3 linked regions of the Homo sapiens genome follow. The protein of the gene in region 3 interacts with the protein of the main gene of each other region in a pairwise test. Each region holds a gene or a part of one and is shown on either strand. Other genes may lie near its edges. The genes, in order: FAIM, RASAL3 and CDR2L.

Region 1 (3,749 bases), on a different chromosome or scaffold from region 3:
GGTGTTTGGGTCATGGGGGCTGATCCCCAGTGAATACATTAATGCCCTCCCTTGGAGGTGAATGGGTTTTTGCTCTATCAGTTCTCACTAGAGCTGTTTGATAAAAAGAGCTTGTACCTCCCCGCTGTCTCTCCTGCTTTCTCTCTGGTCACATGCTCTCTACACAGCCAGCTCTCCTTTGCCTTCTGCCATGAGTAGAAGCAACTTGAGGCCCTCACCAAATGCAGATGCCCAATCTTGAGCTTCTCCAGACATCAGAATCATGAGCTAAATAAACCTTTTTTCTTTATAAATTATGCAACCTCGGGTATTCCTTTGTAGCAGCATGAAAGAGACTGAGACTTCTCATTGTTCCCTTCCCCCATTCCCAGGGAACATCTAATCTGCTTTCTGCCTCTACGAATGTCCCTTTTCTGGGTATTTTATATAAGTGGAATCATATTTGTCATTTTTTGTCTGGCTATTTTTTTTTTTTTTTTTTTTTTGAGACGGAGTCTCGCTCTGTCACCCAGGCTGGAGTGCAGTGGTGCGATCTCAGCTCACTGCAAGCTCCGCCTCCCGGGTTCACGCCATTCTCCTGCCTCGGCCTCTTGAGTAGCTGGGACTACAGGCGCCCGCCACCACGCCTGGCTAATTTTTTTGTAGTTTTAGTAGAGACGGGGTTTCACCGTGTTAGCCAGGATGGTCTCGAACTCCTGACCTCGTGATCCGCCCGCCTCGGCCTCCCAAAGTGCTGGGATTACAGGCGTGAGTCACCGCGCCCGGCCTTGTCTGGCTATTTCACTTAGCATAAAGTTTTCATAGTTCATCCATGTTATAGCATATGTCAGAATATCACTCCTTATTTTGGCTGAATGAAAAGGAATATCCTTTGTATATATATGCATTTTATCACTTCTCAGCCTTTTGGCCGAGATCAAGTGTATGTACCGCGTTTTGTTTATTCTTATGTTGATGGACAACTTGGGTTGTTTTCATCTTTTGGCTATTGGAAAATGCTACAATGAACAATAGTATACAGGTGTCTGAGTGGCTGATTTCAAAACTTTTTGAGTGCATTCCTAGCAGCAGAATTGCTAGGTCATATAGTAATTCTCTGTTTAGGTTTTGAGGAACTGTCATATCATTTTGTATGACAACTTCACCATTTTACAGTCCCACTAGCAATGTACAAGGATTCCAGTTTTTCCACATCCTTGCCAACACTGATTATTTTCTGTTTATTTTTAGTATAGCCATCCTAGTAGATGTGAAGTTGTATTTCATTGTTGTTTTGATTTGCATTTCTGTCGTGATTAATGTTGTTTAGCATCTTTTCATGTGCTTATTGACCATTTGTATGTCTTCTTTAGAATAATGTCTGTGGAAGTCCTTTGCCTTTTTTTTTTTTTTTTCCTGGAAACAGGCTTTTGCTCTTGTTGCCCAGGCTGGAGTGCAATGGCATGATCTTGGTTTACTGCAGCCTCCGCCTCCTGGGTTCAAGCGATTCTCCTGCCTCAGCCTCCCGAGTAGCTAGCTGGGATTACAGGTGCCTGCCACCACACTCGGCTAATTTTTTGTATTTTTAGTAGAAATGGGGTTTCACCATGTTGGCCAGGCTGGTCTCGGACTCCTGACCTCAGGTGATCCACCCGCCTCAGCCTCCCAAATTGCTGGGATTACAGGTGTGAGCCACTGCGCCCGGCCCCTTTCCCATTTTTAAATTGGGTTGTCTTTTGTGTTTATGAGCAGTAGAGTTCTTTATATATTCAGAATATGAAACCTCTATCAGATATATGATTTCCAAATATTTTCTCTCATCCTTGTCCTTTCACTTTCTAGATAATGTCCTTTGATGCACAAAAATTTTAGTTTGTTTTTGTTTTTTTGAGACAGGGTCTATTCTGTTGCCAAGGGTGGAGTGCAGTGGTGCAATCACAGCTCACCTGCAGCCTTGACCTCTCAGGCTTAAGTGATCCTCCCACTTCAGCCTCCCATGTAGCTGGGACTACAGGCATGCACCACCATGCCTGGCTAGTTTTTAAATTTTTTTGTAGAGATGGGGTCTCCCTATGTTGCCCAGGCTGGTCTTGAACTCCTGGGCTCAAGCAATCCTCCCACCTTGGCCTCCCAAATTGCTGGGAATGCGGGTGTGAGCCACCACACCCAGTCAGTTTTAACTTTTGATGAAGTTCAATTTATCTATTTTTTTCTTTTGCTGCTATCCTTTTGGTGTCCTATCTAAGAATCCATTGCCAAATCCAAGATCATGAGGATTTACCTCTATGTTTTCTTCTAAGAGTTTTGTGGTTTTAGCTCTTACATTTAGATCATTGAGATAACTTTTGTATATGGTGTGAGATAGGTGAGGTTCAACTTAATTCTCTTGTGTATGAAAATCTAGTTTTCCCCATAACATCTGTTGAAGAGACTATTCTTTCCCCACCAGTTAGAGTTGGCACCCTTGTCAAAAATCATTTGGCCACAGATATGTGGATTTATTTCTGAACTCTCAAATTCTTTAAGGACAGAAACATTTTCTTCAGGCTGGGCATGGTGGCTTATGCCTGTAATCCCAGCACTTTGGGTGGCCGAGGTGGGAGGATCACTTGAGTTCAGGAGTTTGAGACCAGCTGGGGCAACATGGTGAAACCTCATCTTCACAAAAAATTACAAAATTAGCTGGGTGTTGTGGCACATGCCTATGGTCCCAGCTACTAAGGAGGCTGAGGTGGGAGGATTGTTTGAGCCCAGGAGGTCGAGGCTGCAGTGAATTGAGATCGCACCACTGCACTCCAGCCTGGATGACTAGAGTGAGACCCTATCTCAAAAAACAAAAAAAAAGAAGGATTTTCTTCAAATTTCTGACAGCGTCTAGTACAGTATCTCTTGATAGCAGGTTCAAATGTTGAATGGAAAAACTGAAGCCTGGACATTTATCATAAGAAAACTTTTGTTGTGAAGGTACATCTCCCCTTGAGAAAACAAATAGAGCATAGCTGCTGCAAATCATACAAAACCATAGAAAAATTTAAAAGACATGTACGACCAGGTGCGGTGACTCATGCCTGTAATCTCAGCACCTTGGGAGGCCAAGTCAGGTGGATTACTTGAGCCCACAAATTCAAGACCAGCCTAGGTAACATGGTGAAACCTCATATCTACCATAAATACAAAAATGAGCCGGGTGTGGTGGTGTGTACCTGTAGTCCCAGCTACTTTGGAGGCTAAGGTGGGAGGATCCTTTGGGCCCAGGAGGTTGAGGCTGCAGTGAGCATTGAATATACCATTGCACTCCAGCCTGGGCAGCAGAACAAGACCCTGTCTCAAAACAAAAACAAAAACATGTACAGATGCTTCTTGACTTGTGATGGGGTTATATCCCAATAAACCCATTGCAAGTTGAAAATATTATAAGTTGAAAATGGATTTAGTACACCTAACCTATCAAACATCATGTCTTAGCCTTGCCTACCTTAAGTGTCCTCAGAATACTTACCTTAGCCCACATTTGGGCAAAATCATCTAACACAAAGCCTATGTTACAATGAAGTCTTGGCTGTCTCCTGTAATTTTTTGTACTGTAGTGAAAGTGAATGGTTGTATGGGTACTCAAAGTATGGTTCCTACCAAACACGTATCTCTTTTGCACCATCTTAAAGTCGGAAAATCATTAAGTCAAACCATTATAAGCCGGGGACCATCTGTATTTGACTTTGGAGTGCTTTCAGAACATTTGGTGGGCATTTAACTATTTGTTGAGTTAATGG
Region 2 (3,749 bases), on a different chromosome or scaffold from region 3:
CTTATTAACGGATCACTTAAAATATGTTGGGCCTGGGGCCGGGCGCGGTGGCTCACGCCTGTAATCCCAGCACTTTGGGAGGCTGAGGCGGGCGGATCATGAGGTCAGGAGATCGAGACCATTCTGGTTAACACAGTGAAACCCTGTCTCTACTAGAAATACAACAATTAGCTGGGCATGGTGGCGGGTTCCTGTAGTCCCAGCTGCTCAGGAGGCTGAGGCAGGAGAATGGCGTGAACCCAGGAGGCGGAGCTTGCGGTGAGCCGAGATCGCGCCACTGCACTCCAGCCTGGGCAACAGAGCGAGACTCCATCTCAAAAAAAAAATAAAAAAAATGCTGGGCCCTAGGCTAGTGTTACATTCCTGAGCCCTAATTCTTGTGATATCCATTACTCTTCTAGATCCCCCTGTGTGACACTTAGCACCATCTGTCATTTTTTTTCTTTCTTTTTTTTTTTTTTCTTCCATTGAGATGGAGTCTCCCTCTGTCGCCCAGGCGGGAGTGCAGTAGTGCAATCTCAGCTCACTGCAACCTCCACCTCCCGGGTTCAAGCGATTATCCTGCCTCAGCCTCCTGAGTAGCTGGGAGTACAGGTATGTGCCACCATGCCTAGATACTTTTTTTTTTTTGTATTTTTAGTAGAAACAGGGTTTTGCCATGTTGGCCAGGCTGGTCTCGAACTCCTGAGCTCAGGTGATCCACCCACCTTGGCCTCCCAAAGTGCTGGGATTACAGGTGTGAGCCATCATGCCTGGCCCATCTGTCATTTTCTTGTTGATGGATTTCCTGTCAATTCCACTACACTGTGAGCTCCATGGGGCAGGGAGGGTCATCTGTCTCTTTCACTAGTGTGTCCTCAGTGCCTAAATCAGGGCCTGGCACATACAATAGAAGCTCAACAAACCTCTGCTTGAATAAATGAATGAATATGAGCAAATAAAATTATATACTCTCCAAAATGGAGATCATTATTCTCACTGAACTGATGGAGAGGCTGAGGCTTAAGGGCTCAGAACAAAGACACGGAAGCTAGAAGGTAGGAGAGTAGGAGGCAGGCTGAAGATGGATATCCAGGTAGGAAAGGATGGGCCTGAGCCATTGAAGGAGAGACCCGTTGGGGCCAAGAGCCGTTTAGCCTCTGGACAATACTATCACGGGTTTACATTCACTGTTCCTTCCTCAGATGGACCCTCTGCCCACAGGACCCCGGCAACTCCTCCTACCCTCTTTAGGGGGAAAGAGGGAACAGGGTAGCTGGGCCCCAGCGGCTTCCTGCTGGGCTTTTGCACTCCCCACAACTTCCTGTGTCTGTATGGTTGATGCTCCGGAGGCAGACAAAACCCAAGCATCCGGCTTCCCAGCCCGGCCCAAGCTCAGGGTGGGGGAACCATGTACCTGGGGCCTCCTGCTCCGGCTCCGGGTCTGGCTCCGGCGGTGGGTTCTTATGCCTCCCCCAGAGGGCCTTGGAGAGTCGAAGGCGACTGGTCCGTGACTCCTTGGGAGGCGCAGATAGGACCCGACGGAATATCGAGCGAGGGGCTGGCTGGGTGCTGACCATGGGCTCCTGGTGGCTCAGGGCCCTGCCCCAGCCAGCAAAGCGGCCCCAGCGGAACCCTCCAGCCGCCTTCTCCCCACCGCCCCCTGTGTGCCAGCGGTAGGAAGTCAGCGGAGAGGTGGCTGTGGGCTGGGTTTGGGAGGTCCGGCTTGGCGACGGTGGGTCCATGGTTGGGGGGGGGGGTCTCCTGGGGGACGAGAGAGTGACAGTAGTGCCCAGTGTCTGTCCACATACTGCCCTCATCTCGGCCCCCTCCCCACCCTCAGCTCTGCCTCCAGGAATCCCCCTGCCCCCACCTCCACTCCCTCCCTTACCTTGGTTTCCTGACCAGCCCCAGAATCAGCAGCCGTCTGCACCCCGCCTGGCTTCCTCCCTCGGAACCCAACTCCACGTGACCCTCTCTGTCCCACCCCACCCCACAGCCAGGCTGGGAGGGCACAGTGCGGGCAGGTTGCTGGAGGTTCGAGGGAGGAGAAGAGAGGAGGTGGGTTACCAGGCTTCTAGCAAGAAGGACCCAGACTGCCTCCCTGACGGGGAGGCAGCACTTGCCCCTCTCTCTGAGCCTCCGTTGCCTTCTCTGCAAAATGAGTACAGGCTGAACAAATGCTGGCGAGAATACAAAGCACCTAGAACTCTAATCCACAGTTGGCCGGAGTGTAGACCCATTCACTCATGTTGGGAAACGGTTTGGCAGGATCTACTAACACTACTAGCTGGATCTTCTCTGACTCAGCAATTCCATTGCTAGGTAGACGTCCAATAGATATGCCCCCCCAGCACAATGCATAATAGCCCCACATTGGAAGCAGCCTAAGTACCCATTAGTGGGAGAAGGAATAAATTGTGATCTCTTCGCACAGCAGAATATCATACAGCAGTGAGAACAAACTAAAGAATGATTTAACTTGGGTGAATCACAAACAATGTTGAGCCAAAACCAAAACCAAAGCCATAAAATGCCAGTAATCTGAGCTATTCAGGAGGCTGAGGGAGGAGGATCGCTTGAGGCCAGGAGTTCGAGGCTGCAGTGAGCTGTGATCATGCCTGTGAATAGGCAGTGCACTCCAGTCTGGGTGACATAGGGAGACCTCATATCTAACTTTTTTTTTTCTTTTTCCCCTCCCTGCCCTCGGGAGACCCCATCTCTAAAAAGCAATAATAAATAAATTTAAAAACCCCAAAACAATGAAGAGTATACACTTTGTGATTCCATTTACATAAAGTCCTAAAGCAGGCAAAACCATGTCTAACAAGCAGGGTATCAGTTTCTTTTGGAGGCACTGGTGGCTGGGAAGAGGGTACAAGGGGGGCTTCTGGAAGATGGCAAGATTTATTATTACTCTTATTATTATTAATTGATTTATTTATCGAGAAGGAGTTTCGCTCTGTCTCCCAGGCTGGTGTGCAGTGGCACGATCTTGGCTCACTGCAATCTCTGCCTCCCGGATTCAAGTGATTCTCCCTACTCAGCCTCCTGAGTAGCTGGGACTACAGGTATTCACCACCATGCCTGCCTAATTTTTTTGTATTTTTAGTAGAGACGGGGTTTCACCATGTTGGTCAGGCTGGTCTTGAACTCCTGACCTGAAATGATCTGCCCGCCTTGGCCTCCCAAAGTGCTGGTATTATAGGCGTAAGCCACCGTGCCCGGCCCTTATTATTATTATTATTTATAAATGAGGTCTATAAAAATAATATAGATCTCATAAAATAAAAATATAATATTTATATTACATAGTAATATAAATAATATTACATTATACATAATATGAATATTATTATTTTTTGTAGATGAGGTCTGTCATCCAGGCTGGAGTGCAGTGGTGCCATCATAGCTCTCTGTAACCTCTAACTCCTGGGCTCAAGAGATCCTCTCGCCTTAGCCTCCTGAGTAGCTGGGACTACAGCTGCATGCCACCACACCTGGCTTATTAAAAACAATTTTTTTGTTGTTGTTGAGATGAGGGTCTTGCTTTGTTGCCCAGGCTGTTCTTGAACTCCTGGCCTCAAGTGATCCTCCCACCTCAGCCCCCTAAGTAGCTGGGATAATAGGCACATGCTACCATGCCTGGCCTATTTTTTTTTTAATTGAGGTAAAATTCATATAACACAAATTTAGCATGTTCTTTTTTTTTTAATAAGATTTTTTTTTGAGACAGGGTCTTGCTCTGTTGGCCAAGCTGGAGTGCAGTG
Region 3 (3,749 bases):
TTTTGAGCTGGAGGCTCCCCAGGAGAGGGAGGGAAGAAGGCATTCCAGGGGGAAGCGATGCTTGTACCAAGTCATGGAGCGACATGAGAAGGCTGGAAAATAGGGAGGGAGGGGCTGAAGGAAGCATCAGACACGGGTTCTGTGGGGCATTCCCGTGGGCCCTGCCCGCCCTGTGCCCCAGGGGCCAGGCATGGAGAGCTGGATGGTGGGACGGAGCACGGGCCAAAGGCCAGCCATATTGGGTGTCAAAGGCCTGTTGCATCTCCCAACCCACAAATTCTCTTCCACCCAGCTGCTCCCTGGTTGCCTGTGAGTGGCCCAGAAATGGTTTTCTCAGCCAGCCACCTGGTCTTCCCTCCTGTCTGTTTCCTCCTGCCCAAAGGGCAGGCCCTGATTCCACTTTCCAGAAGCTTGACTGTAGAGATCCTGTTTGGCTTTGATGCTCTGTCCTGGTGGAAAGCAGCCGTGGGACAAGTGAGGTCCTAGATTCTCGCTGTGTTCCCTCTGCCCACTGCCACGAGCATTTATAAAAATAGAAAAAGCCAGCTGGGCACAGCAGCTCACACCTGTAATCCCAGCACTTTGGGAGGCCAAGGCGGGCGGATCACCTGAGGTCGGGAGTTCGAGACTAGCCTGACCAACATGGAGAAACCCCGTCTCTACTAAAAATACAAAATTAGCCAGGCGTGGTGGCACATGCCTGTAATCCCAGCTACTCAGGAGGCTGAGCCAGGAGAATCTCTTGAACCCAGGAGGCAGAGGTTGCAGTGAGCTGAGATAGCTAGCGCCATTGCACTCCAGCCTGGGCAACAAGAGCAAACTCTGTCTTTAAAAAAAAAAAAAAAAAAAGCCTAGAAAGAGCCGGGCACGGTGGCTCACGCCTGTAATCCCAGCACTTTGGGAGGCCGAGGCGGATGGATCACAACATCAGGAGATCGAAACCATCCTGGCTAACACAGTGAAACCCCGTCTCTACTAAAAATACAAAAAATTAGCCGGGCGCGGTGGCGGGCGCCTGTAGTCCCAGCTACTCGGGAGGCTGATGCAGGAGAATGGTGTGAACCCGGGAGGCAGAGCTTGCAGTGAGCCAAGATCGCGCCACTGCACTCCAGCCTGGGCGACAGAGTGAGACTCTGTCTCAAAAAAAGAAAAAAAGAAAGAAAAAGCCATTAATTATTAAGCACTGGCACTCCCTCTTTCGGCCCACATTCCTCCCCTACCTTGGACCAGGCGTGGCAGGCCCTGTGCGTTCCTCTTTCCAGGCTGAGAGGCAGCTGCTGAGTCACAGATTTGAAGTCCTTGGTACCCGTGCTGTCCCCGCCTGCCTAGCTGACCTTGAGTCCTCAGCCTCAGGAGAGCTCTGACCTGGCAACGGGAGGGAGGTCCTGCCTCCACCCTGGTTACCCCAAAGGTGACCTGACCCTGATTCTGTGGACCCAGAGTGGCTGACAGTCGTGCCCTGGAGCTGAGAACAGGACCTCACAGCCCTGCCAGGTGGTACTTGTGTCCACAGCCTGGAGCCCACACCCCTACCTTTGTCCTCCCTGAAAATGTCCCCTCTCCCTTTGCTGAGTCTCTGCTCTGGAATCTGTGGTGCCCGAGCCAGTGAGGGACAGTGGGATTTCTAAGTTTCTTTTCAAAGACAGGCCCTGGGTTCCCCAGACATTCCTCCTCAGGCCTCTGGGGCATTGCTTCATGTAAAACCACTAAAACCTCCTGAAGGAGACCCCAGAAAACCCTGGGGTCCAGGCAGGGGAGGTGCCAACCCAGACTTAATGTTGTTTTTTTTTTTTCTTTTGACCTGCACAGTTCAAACCCATAGCCCAGACTTAGTACCTTCCCTCAGCTTGGTCCGGTGTGTCCCATTCATCCAGCTGTGACAGGTTGTTACTCCACTTTCACTTCCTGTCTAGCCAGCTCCCCCATTCTCCCGTTCCCAGGCCTCTCTCCTCTGAGCCTGGAGCCATCACCCACCCTCTGGTAGCTGGTGTCTTCTCCCTAGTACTTGGCTCCACTCAGTTCCCTGCTCTGCAACTTCTAGACTATTCCCTGATCCCTCCTGGCAGCTTTGACCAGCTTAGCTTGCGCTGTGATCCAGTTTCCCTAAAATGATCTGAGACCTGCCTCTCTGCCCCCAAACAGCTTCTATTGTGTTTCTCTTTCTACCTGTCCCTGAATCACTAGGTGGCCCAAGTCGATTCACTGCCTTCAAAGGGCAACCTTTGATGTCTCTGGTTTATAGGGTGGTATACCACCCTGGCCTGCCAGCATTAGAAATCTACACACAGCCCAGACACTAACCTGGAAGTGGGGGGTATGATGTTGCACTGCACTTGGCCTTTCTTCACTCACCTCTGATGCAGTGGCTTTGCACTCTAGTTAAGCTGCAGGGGCTCCATGAAGGCCACTTACTTGGAGCATGTCCTCCGACACCCACGGCAGGAGGTAGAATCAGTAGCAATGGCCTCTTTGCAGACCATGTAACAGTTTCCAAGGGGGAAAACATTTAGGAGAGTAGCCCTCTGATCTCTTTCATGTATATCTGAACTGCTGGATACTGTTCAGGATGAGCTAAATTTGAGTCCCACTATGGAAAACAGGAAGATAGCATGGCTGTCTCATCACAAACTGAAGGTGATCTTGCCCGGCTCCTGAGTCCTGAGTTACTGCCATGCGCACAATATAGTACAGGGCTGTAGTTCAATCTTTTTTTTTTTTCAAGACAGAGTCTTGGTCCATCGCCCAGGCTGGAGTTCAGTGGCACAATCTTGGCTCACTGCAACCTCCGCCTCCCAGGTTCAGGCAATTCTCCTGCCTCAGCCTTCTGAGTAGCTGAGATTACAGGTAAGCACCAGCACGCCCAGCTAATTAATTTTTTTGTAGAGACAGGGGTCTCACTATGTTGCCCAGTGCAATGATCTTTACATCAAACTTTACAATTTGTAGATACCTCCAGACTTTTGCCCAACTGACAGGTCATAAATTCATACAGCATATATCCGCATTCCCTTACTAGGTTTATGTTATGTAACTAGTTTTTTCTTGGCATCCTCATCAGAAGGTTAATTGCTCAAGGCTAAAAGTTCTTACCTATGATTTACATGATTTGGTTTCTTTGTTGTTGTTGTTGTTTTCAATGGCTGAGGAAGATGTTTGGGAAAGCTGCCTTTGTTTTTTCAGGCTAAGTTACTGCAGCCTTGCTCTAGGATAGCAGCTTTGCACTCCTTCTCCAGATGACACAGGGCCCTCCTTTGGCTAAAACCCAGCCCTGGAGGCTCCACTTTGGCTGTTTCAAAACCTCACCTCTGTGCACAGGATCAGACTCCGGATTTGTTCCTGTGGGGCAGTTCAGCCTTTATGTCCAGGCCCAGTGGCTGGTCTGGCCCCTCTGCCTCTCACAAGGCAATGTCAGTTCTGCCCCCAGCTTGGCTGAAGGCCCAAGGCTCTGCCCTCAGCTGCCCACCAAGAGTCACTGCTTGCCTGGGCTCATCCCAAAGGAAAACTTCCACCCCAGGTCTAGGTTTCTTTTCAAAGACATCCCTTGGGCTCCCCAGCTATTATTTCTCAGGCCTCTGTCCAATGCATAGCAAGGGCTCAGCCGAAACAACCGTATCTAGGAAACTTTCTGTCCGGGAGTATAGAGCCTATCCGTCCTCCAGAGACCCTAGAACTATCACTATGTCTAAAAAGGGAAAGCAGTAGAGAACTGGATCCCTGAACCACATCATATTGGCCCCAGTAGAGTTGCC

What was found.
Region 1: the proteins of CDR2L (region 3) and FAIM interact in binary tests that used the Homo sapiens proteins (3 or more experiments, as listed by UniProt).
Region 2: the proteins of CDR2L (region 3) and RASAL3 interact in binary tests that used the Homo sapiens proteins (3 or more experiments, as listed by UniProt).

The regions. Positions count from the first base shown.
Region 1 is NC_000003.12:138,611,634-138,615,382, forward strand, and holds part of FAIM (fas apoptotic inhibitory molecule 1), read left to right. Parts: intron 1-3,749. UniProt on the Homo sapiens protein: Plays a role as an inducible effector molecule that mediates Fas resistance produced by surface Ig engagement in B cells.
Region 2 is NC_000019.10:15,462,635-15,466,383, forward strand, and holds the start of RASAL3 (RAS protein activator like-3), read right to left. Parts: upstream 1,911-3,749; 5' UTR 1,871-1,910; intron 1,744-1,870; 5' UTR 1,725-1,743; coding exon 1,397-1,724; intron 1-1,396. UniProt on the Homo sapiens protein: Functions as a Ras GTPase-activating protein. Plays an important role in the expansion and functions of natural killer T (NKT) cells in the liver by negatively regulating RAS activity and the down-stream ERK signaling pathway.
Region 3 is NC_000017.11:74,990,577-74,994,325, forward strand, and holds part of CDR2L (cerebellar degeneration-related protein 2-like), read left to right. Parts: intron 1-3,749.